2 separate regions of the Homo sapiens genome follow, and region 2 is linked to region 1. The links come from fine-mapping of genetic effects on gene expression. A gene starts in region 1. The other region holds a variant in brackets. All regions are shown on one strand. Distances are from middle to middle.

Region 1 (4,374 bases):
GTTGCACTGCTCTCAGCCCGTGGGCATTAGCCCAAAGCGGACCTCGGCGCCCAGAGGTGTGAAGCTGGCTCCTGCTGGTGCTCACCATGGGATCTTGGTGGGAATGACTTTGCTCCTTGTATGACAAGAGGAGCTTAGAGGGCTGTGAGGCTCCAAAGATGCAGGCAGGCCCAGGAGGACAATGTCCAGTAGATCCCCGTAGTCCTCCCTGAAACCTCCAAGGCAGGCTTCTCAGGATACTCTGAGGGTCTTCTCCGGGCCCAGAGCAAAGACTTCTTAAATAACGCTGGGCCGCCCCTCCACAGACACAAACTCAACCTGGGACCTCGAGGGTGGACAGATGCCCAAGGCTTCAAAATGACCATTCCTCAGGGGCCTTTACCATCCTGCCTTTACTGGTCAAGAAGTGATTCTCCGCCACCCCACAAAGCCGGAGTGAAAACCCCTGTCTAGCCAGTTAGAATCTTCCAGACAGGGCTACTTTGTTTTATCAGACAACAAAAGCCACGTCACCCCTGGGGGTTCCTCCGGAAGCTCTCCTGCCCTGCTTGGCCTGGTTCCAGTCATCACCCAACCCTGGGACAGAGAGGCCCCAGGACTGCGTTTCATGCTTGAGAGAGGGTGAGACTTGCTGGGGGACCACCCAACTGGTCAGTGATAGGGTCACGACCCAAACCATATCTGTCTGCTGCAGAAGCAGGGCCCCACTAGACCCACGGAGACAAGCAGGCAGATGTCCAGCACTCTCAGCTCTGGGGCCTCACTAGTGCGCCCCAGCCGGCCCCCTCCAAGAAGGGGCCTCAGCCTCCTCACGCCATTTCTCAGAGGGAGAGAGCAGGGACAGGGAGGTTAAGTGCCCTTTGCAGCCCTAGTCTGGGCTCCAGGGGGCGGGGGTGACTTGGCTTCTCCCAGCCTTCGCTGCCCGGGCTGAGAGGGGGCCGGACCTCCAGGGCGACATCGAGGTGTGTCTGGGAAGTCCAACCGGTGTCCCCTTTGGTCCGGCCGTCCCTAGGAGCCCGTTCCGCCCGGCGCCGCTCGCTGGCTTTGTCCACAGCACTCTCCCGCCCCAACTAAGGGTTGGCCGAGAACAAGGGGTTGGGGGCGTTTCCACCGCGGCTTCACGGCAGGCGGGACCCCGAAGGAAGTCGGCGGGGGCCCAGCACTCCGGCAGCCGCTCGAGGAGCCCCGAGCTCCTGCAGACCGAGCCGGGGAACAAACCTCCCGCCCGCCCCCGGGCGTCGGGGCGCCCCAGAGGCCCCCGGGATGAACGGCCGGAGCTTCTCGCGAAAAGCCGCCCGGCCCTTGCGCTCCGGGGCCCTGGCGAGCCCCACTGGGTGTTTCCCCGGAGGAGCGGCACCCTGGGGCTCGGTCCGTCCATCAGTCCACGCGGAAGACACCCCGGCGCACGTCCCGCCCCGGCTCACCCACCGTGCACCAGTCTCCGCATGTCCTGGTAGCGAGCCCATAGGTGCGCGCTGAGGTCGGCGCCGCTGGTGGGTGCCTGGGCGGGCGCGGAGCGCGGGACGCCGGGGCAGTGGGCGCCGGGACCCGGGGGGCCGCACCCAGGGCAGGAGGGCGAGGACGAGGCGGCTCGCGGCCCGCCGTGGCCTCCGCACAGCAGCCAGCGCCGAGCGGCCGCCCGCAGCCCCGCACCCGCCATGCCCACCGCGCGCCGCCCGCCGCCCGCGCTGCCCTCGGCCAGCCCGCCGCCCGCCGCCCGCCGCCCTCCGACTGCGCGCCCGCCACGGTGGCCTCGTGCTCCTCACGGCGGCCGGCCAATGGGTGCGGCGCGCGGAGCCCGGCCTGCCAATGGGCGCGCCCCTCGGCCCGGGGGGCGGGAGGCCCCGGACCCGGCGGGGCGGGGCGGGGCGGGGAGGGCTCCCCAGCCCCCTCCCCCAGCCAGTCTCCGGCGCGGTCCGGGAGGACTCTGCGCCCCCCTTCGGCCGTCACGCCGGCGATGGCGGCGCCTTTCCCTGGCCCCAGCCCTGGAAGTCAGCGGGCCTAAGAGCGGCCGTCCCTGAGAGGCTCCGGACGGCCGAGGCGCCGAGAGGAGACAGCCGGAGCGCGACGGGTACCCCCCGGGCCCCCGGGTCCTCTGCCGCCCTCTCCGCTCCCGGGTCCGCCCGCCCTACCCTGCGCCTCTGGATGCTTCTGACCCCAGATCCTCCGCTCCTCCCCCTAGTCCTGGTGCTCTCCTTTCCCGGGGTCCTGGTCCCCGGTCTCTGGGCTCGGACTGACTGCCCACTGACCAGAGCCCGGGCCAGTCCACTCACTGGTCTAACAAATAAAGAGCCCTTCCCGCGCTTCCCGGTGCCAGGCCCACGCTGGGGGAGGCCGAGGGGCCTGCAGGGCAGCCGACGTCCGCTAACCAGGTGACTGGGCCGTGCGCTGCAGGGTTGTGGGCCACGGTCACTGCGCCCGCTTGGTTCGGACCTCGGCAACTGGCCGCACTGACCCGTCAACTCCCGGTTTCCCGGCGCACGCCCCTCGTGAGATGCTGTGGTCTTTTCTAGCAACGTCGACAGGCTTTCCAACAAAATTCCTCTTTCCTGCGCAGAACCGCTCTCCACTCGCATTTCTTCTGCTCAGATCCGTATTCCGAGCCCGCACGCATACCAGGCTGTGCTCAGGGTCCGGAGGAGGCCGACCCAGTAGCCGTGGGCCCTGTCGGAGGGGAGCCAGCTGGGCGCGCGTTGTTTTCTGAGGTGGCCGCGCTGTCTTTCAGGGTGTGTGTACATTCGAAACTCCACTGAACCTTGATTGAAGACCTACAGTGTGGCAGTCCATGGCCTGGGGACTGGTAAGGATTGAGGCCGTAGGATGGGCTCGAGTGTGGCGGTGTCCCCAGGGCCCCAGTGAGCAAGTGGGTGTGCTGGGAACCTGGCCACAAGTGAACCTCCTCCAGGCGAGGGGATGCCCTGCAGCATCCAGCCGTCAAAACCTCCTGTAGAAACGGGAGCGAGCATCAAGCCTGTGTGTGTGCATGCTTGGGCGGAGTCTACCCGGAGGAGAAAGAGGCTTCCGGGCTGGCCCTCCAAAGCCGGTTGTACAGGCGGCAGCTCAGGCTGCTCACTGCGGGCCCTATGACCCTTTCTGGGGCCCTGCTTGCTCTCTCCAGTCTGCTTTTGTATATTTTGTGTCCATATCACCAAATCGTCTCATTGGTTCTAAGCTTTCATTTACCTTCCTTAGATTGTCTAATAGTTGTCTCCTTTCTCAAAGCTGTTCCTGCAGTTTTTACTTTAGTCCTAGGTAATGGGGTGACAGCCCCTTTCAGTTATCTTCAGCAAGCACAGCAGCATGAGAAGACGCAATTACAAGTGAAGTCTCTTAAGTCAGAGCCCTGCTTCTACCTGGCATAGTCTCTTAAACTGTCAGTTAAGAGACTACATATAAACAATACACGTTCAGACTCGGCGCGGTGGCTCACGCCTGTAATCACAGCACTTTGGGAGGCCAAGGCAGGAGGATCTCTTGAGCCCAGGAGTTTGAGACTAGCCTGGCCAATATAGTGGGACCCCCATCTCTACAAAAAATTAAAAAATTAGCCGGGCGTGGTGGTGCACGCCTGTAGTGGTGGGAGGATGGCTTGAGCCGGGGAGGAGGGGGTTGCAGTGAGCCGAGATTGCGCCACTGCACTTCAGCCTGGATGACAGAGCGAGGTCCTGTCTCAAGAAACAAACAAAAACCATGTTTGGGAATACATGTGAAGAGCGAGGGCTCTGCCAATCATTATCATCATAATGAATATTCTAACTAATATTAATCAGTTACTATGCTCCAGGGTTGTGTTCAGTGCATCATTCCTATTACCGCACTAAATTATCACAGCGTCAGAACAAGGCCTCCGTTTTACGGCTTAGGGAATTGAGGCACAGATGGGCTAAGGGAGCACCTGTAGAGCAGGGATGTGGTTTGGTAACAGAGTGCATGCTCTTTATACTGCTCTTCTGCGATTATTGTGAATAAAGCGCCTACAAGTGCCTGTGGAACTGTAAGTGCCCCATACAAGATAGCTTTTATTAATTTTAGGGTTCTCACGGGGCGCTTACTTAGATTTTTGCTGTGATAATTGATAAAGTTCAGCTTTCAACACTCCATATCAAATTCTGTTACTTTAGAAGTCTAGGCACCAATCACGTCTCCGAAATAAACGCAAGGCATTGCATAATTGCATTTTGGAATGTGGTGCTGTACATAGTCCATCAGAGAGGGTCATCACTTCTATCTGGGTATTAGGAATAAAAATGGCGGTGGCAGAGTAGGGGGCGCGGCTGCCAACTGCGAGCTCAGACCTGCACTGGGGAGGCAGGGGGCGGGGCCGGGCCGGCGCCACGTGGGCTGTCCTTCCCTTTTGGGCCGTCCCACCTCCAG
Region 2 (4,374 bases), 28 kb before region 1:
CCGGTCTGCCACTTGCCAGGTGACCGCTGATGGGAAGACCAGGTGAGCACAGGTGCCTGGGAGCAGAGACAGTGGGTTGGGCAAGCGTGCCCTCTGCGGGAAGGCGTGGGGGGTGCGGTGGGGGGGGCCTCAGCCTCCGCCCTGACTGGCTCTCCCTGGGAGCCCAGCTGTGTGTGCAGGGAAAGCGAGGTGGGGGATGGGCGTGCCTGCTACGGACACCTGCTCCACGAGGTGCAGAAGGCCACGCAGACAGGCCGGGTGTTCCTGCAGCTGAGGGTCGCCGTGGCCATGATGGGTGCGTGACCCCACTGCTTGCCCACGACCCGACCCCTCACCCCCAGCACAGTTGGCAGGGAGGGAGGAGCTGCCTCTGCAGATTCCAGTTTCTCTGCCCAGGGCTGTGGGAACAAACAGGTGGCTGTGGGGGGTGCATGCAGGGGGTGGGAGCTGCTCTCCAACCTCAAGGCCCCCATCTACCCTAAATCTAGGGAGAATACCCCCACCCCAACTCCCCCACACCAGGTCTGATGCCCGAACATCTTCTGAGATCCCCAGAGTCTCCCCAGCTCCCTTCTGATGCTCCCTCACCCTGCCCCCCAGACCAGGGCTGCCGGGAAATCCTTACCACAGCGGGCCCTTTCACCGTGCTGGTGCCATCCGTCTCCTCCTTCTCCTCCAGGACCATGAATGTAAGCCCCTCCCCATGGTGGAGCTGGCCACTGGCCCTCACCTCCTCCCCTGGATGCATCCCCAGTCTTCAGGGCCACCTGGAAGGCATCAGGGCCTGGGATGCATCCTGTCCCCTCCATTGCTGGGTAGAGGTGGTGTGAAGAGGACTGGCCCCCCGGCTCACTTTGCTCCCCGCCTTGCGTCTGCAGGCATCCCTTGCCCAGCAGCTCTGTAGACAGCACATCATCGCAGGGCAGCACATCCTGGAGGACACAAGGACCCAACAAACACGAAGGTGGTGGACGCTGGCCGGGCAGGAGATCACCGTCACCTTTAACCAATTCACGGTGAGGGAGGAGCCTCAGCCTGGGGACAAGAGGAGTCACAGCCTGGCAAGGGTGTGCAGGTGGGAGGGAGCCTCCGGACAGGGGGCTGGCATATGGGATCTGGCCAGACCTCTTGTGTCTCACCAGAAATACTCCTACAAGTACAAAGACCAGCCCCAGCAGACGTTCAACATCTACAAGGCCAACAACATAGCAGCTAATGGCGTCTTCCACGTGGTCACTGGCCTGCGGTGGCAGGCCCCCTCTGGGACCCCTGGGGATCCCAAGGTGAGCCAGCATCCTCCCCTCCCCTCCCCTGTGCTGCTGGGTAATCTCAGACCCCTGCAGAGAGCAGTGAGTGGGCAGGAGCCATTCTACTCAGGGCTGGAGCGCAGCTTCTCCCCGCTGGGCTGAAGCAGCCTCACCCCTTCCCTGGGGCCCTCACACTCATCCCTCCTTACAGAGAACTATCGGACAGATCCTCGCCTCTACCGAGGCCTTCAGCCGCTTTGAAACCATCCTGGAGGTAAGCTCGGGGGAGGGGTCCTAGCCCATGTGGGCTTCTGGGCTTCTGAGCCAGGACTCATTATCCCAGATTCTGCCCCACAGTGACCTGGGGTTCTGAAGTAGCATGGCCTCTGCCCATGCCCCCGTCCTCAAGCCTGAGGTTCTGTGGTAGCATGGACCCATTGCCCATGTCTCCCCCTTACTCAGTGGGAGTTTCCTGCAGGCCAAAGGTGGCAGGGCCCAGGCAGGACTCAGAGGTGGAGGCTGGCCATGCAACCCCCTGAGCCTCCCTTGCACCACCACAGAACTGTGGGCTGCCCTCCATCCTGGACGGACCTGGGCCCTTCACAGTCTTTGCCCCAAGCAATGAGGCTGTGGACAGCTTGCGTGACGGCCGCCTGATCTACCTCTTCACAGCGGTAAGCTCAGCGGGAGAAGGGGCTGCGGGTATGGGGGCACCAGGACCTCCAC[G/A]CTCCCCCACAGTTCCTCCAGGAGCCAAACCCTCTCTCTCCCCTGCCAGGGTCTCTCTAAACTGCAGGAGTTGGTGCGGTACCACATCTACAACCACGGCCAGGTGCGAGGTCTTTTTCTGGGGGGCGGCCAGCTTGTACCCGGTGGGCCTGCCTGCAGGTTCTGGACTTCCCCAAGGCCCCATCTCTTCTCCATCTCCCTTCCCTTCTCATCTGTTCTGCTATAGCACAGAGCCTAGGGACCAAGGGGGTGGCTGTGAGCCTCCTGGGCAGGACTGGGCGTGGCCCCAAGGTATGGCCAGAGCCCAGCCTAAAGCCACACTGTCCCTTGCCCCAGCTGACCGTTGAGAAGCTCATCTCCAAGGGTCGGATCCTCACCATGGCGAACCAGGTCCTGGCTGTGAACATTTCTGAGGAGGTGAGGTGCACGGACACCTGGGCGGATGGTGGGGCTGGCGGTGACCAGCTGCCCACTTGGCCTCTCAGCCTTGTGTGCTCCGAGCCCCGTGGTGGGCAGGACACTGCTAGGCCATGGCGGGCTCATGGGGAAGGAAGCAGGCAGAGATCAAATTCCTCTGCTGGGGCCCAATGAGAGTTAAGGGGGAGGACTCCAAAAAGGAGCATGGAGCACACGGTAGGGCTGCCCCATGTGGCAGAAGCCATGTGGGTAAGGACCCGCAGCCTGGAGCAGTGTCGTTGGCCAGAGCTGAAGGAGAGGTGGCTGGTATGGCCAGCGGGGCCTTCAGCAGCTCACTGAGCTGCCTGTCTGCTCTAACTGGGCTGCAGGGGTGGAGGTGGGCAGCCCCACCGGGCCAAGGCCAGCCAGGCTGGGGGTTGGCTCAGTGGGTCTCTGCCGCAGGGGCGCATCCTGCTGGGACCCGAGGGGGTCCCGCTGCAGAGGGTAGACGTGATGGCCGCCAATGGTGTGATCCACATGCTGGACGGCATCCTGCTGCCCCCGACCATCCTGCCCATCCTGCCCAAGCACTGCAGCGAGGAGCAGCACAAGATTGTGGCGGTGAGCCTCGCCTGCACGGCCAGGGCCCTACTCACTAACCCCTGTCAGCGCTGGAGCGGCAATCCTCTTCCCAGGGAGAGGCGCTAAGTCAGGGCTGGGCTGACGCCGGCTCTGAGGCCCTGCTGGCAGACTCCCAAGGACCCACCTGTGCTTCCCCCACGCTCACCCTCACCAGGACTATGATTCCATCTTTGAGATTTGTTTTGTTTTTTGAGGTAGGGTCTTGCTCTGTCGCCTAGGCTGGAGTGCAGTGGCACAATCCCAACTCACTGTAGCCTCCGCATCCTGGGTTCAAGCGATTCTCCTGCCTCAGCCTCCCGAGTAGCTGGGATTACAGGTGTCCGCCAACATGCCTGGCTAATTTTTGTATTTTTAGTAGAGATGGGATTTCACCATGTTGGCCAGGCTGGTTTCAAACCTCTGACCTCAGGTGATCCGCCCACCTCGGCCTCCCAAAGTGCTGGGATTACAGGCATGAGCCACTGAGCCTGGCCTGAGATAACTCTTGCATCCTCCACCGCTCCATCCCCTTTCACTCACTCTGTGCCTGCCTCTGGCCTCTCTGCTGTTTTCCAGAGACTCTAGCTCTGCCCGGCTCGGGGCCTCTGCCCCTGCTCTCCTCTGCCTGGAATGCCAGTGCTGGGCTTCCTGTGGTTGGCTCTTCTCATCCCTTAATCCCCACTCAATGTTCCCTTCTCTGGGTTTGCCGAGTAAATAAACAATGACTAACCCCTCTCCCCATCCTGCCCCTGCCCTGCCCAGGGCTCCTGTGTGGACTGCCAAGCCCTGAACACCAGCACGTGTCCCCCCAACAGTGTGAAGCTGGTGAGCACACCTTGGCCCAGCTCTCAGGGCCTCCTGACTGCCTGTTGAGGTTTCTGCCCTGGGTCACAGGGGTGGGTGGGGGAAGCAGAGGCTGGGAGGCTAGATCACACCTGGAGGCTAAGTGCTTCGCAGCCCCACTGGACCAGGGTTAGAGTTCTGGACCCAGGGGGCAGAGGTCCCTTAACCAGGGCTGCCTAGCAAAGGGGCTGGCCCAGAACCCACACCCACTGACTGGCTTTGCATGGCCCACCCTAGGACATCTTCCCCAAGGAGTGTGTCTACATCCATGACCCAACGGGGCTCAATGTGCTAAAGAAGGGCTGTGCCAGCTACTGCAACCAAACCATCATGGTAAGCGTGGGCATGGGTGCCCACTCCCAGGTCACCTGGGCACCTGCTGTTCCTCGGGGGCCCCCAAGCTGGGGCTGAGTGGGCTCCCTCCCTCAGAGGATGCACTGCAGCCTGACGGTGGAAAAGGGGTCCCAGAGAAACCTTATCCACTCCGTCACTCTGGAGATGGGGCCAGGGAGCAGAGGCAGCCTGGGCAGGGAGGGCATGG

The links. PIP is the estimated chance that this variant, and not a neighbour inherited with it, causes the effect. A credible set is the group of variants that fine-mapping cannot tell apart.
Region 2: its variant is the best candidate, but not a certain one, in a credible set for the expression of NT5DC2 in pancreas (GTEx, PIP 0.60).

What each region holds. Positions count from the first base shown.
Region 1 is chr3:52,532,078-52,536,451 of GRCh38, forward strand. NT5DC2 (5'-nucleotidase domain containing 2) reads right to left here and starts at 1,780. Exons shown (of 14, transcript NM_001134231.2): 1 at 1,429-1,780. The coding sequence starts at 1,660. RefSeq lists an enhancer at 890-1,019 and silencers at 1,150-1,239, 1,270-1,619, 1,680-2,179, 4,214-4,374.
Region 2 is chr3:52,503,861-52,508,234 of GRCh38, forward strand. It overlaps STAB1 (stabilin 1), which reads left to right. Exons shown (of 69, transcript NM_015136.3): 9 at 1-42; 10 at 168-295; 11 at 601-689; 12 at 879-1,016; 13 at 1,143-1,283; 14 at 1,459-1,521; 15 at 1,808-1,921; 16 at 2,023-2,076; 17 at 2,310-2,390; 18 at 2,832-2,990; 19 at 3,753-3,815; 20 at 4,071-4,166. Among named protein-coding and RNA genes, the nearest start is that of STAB1, 11 kb to the left of the region's middle. RefSeq lists enhancers at 133-638, 639-1,144, 2,511-3,110, 3,111-3,712. The variant G/A (reference allele first, on the strand shown) is at 1,974.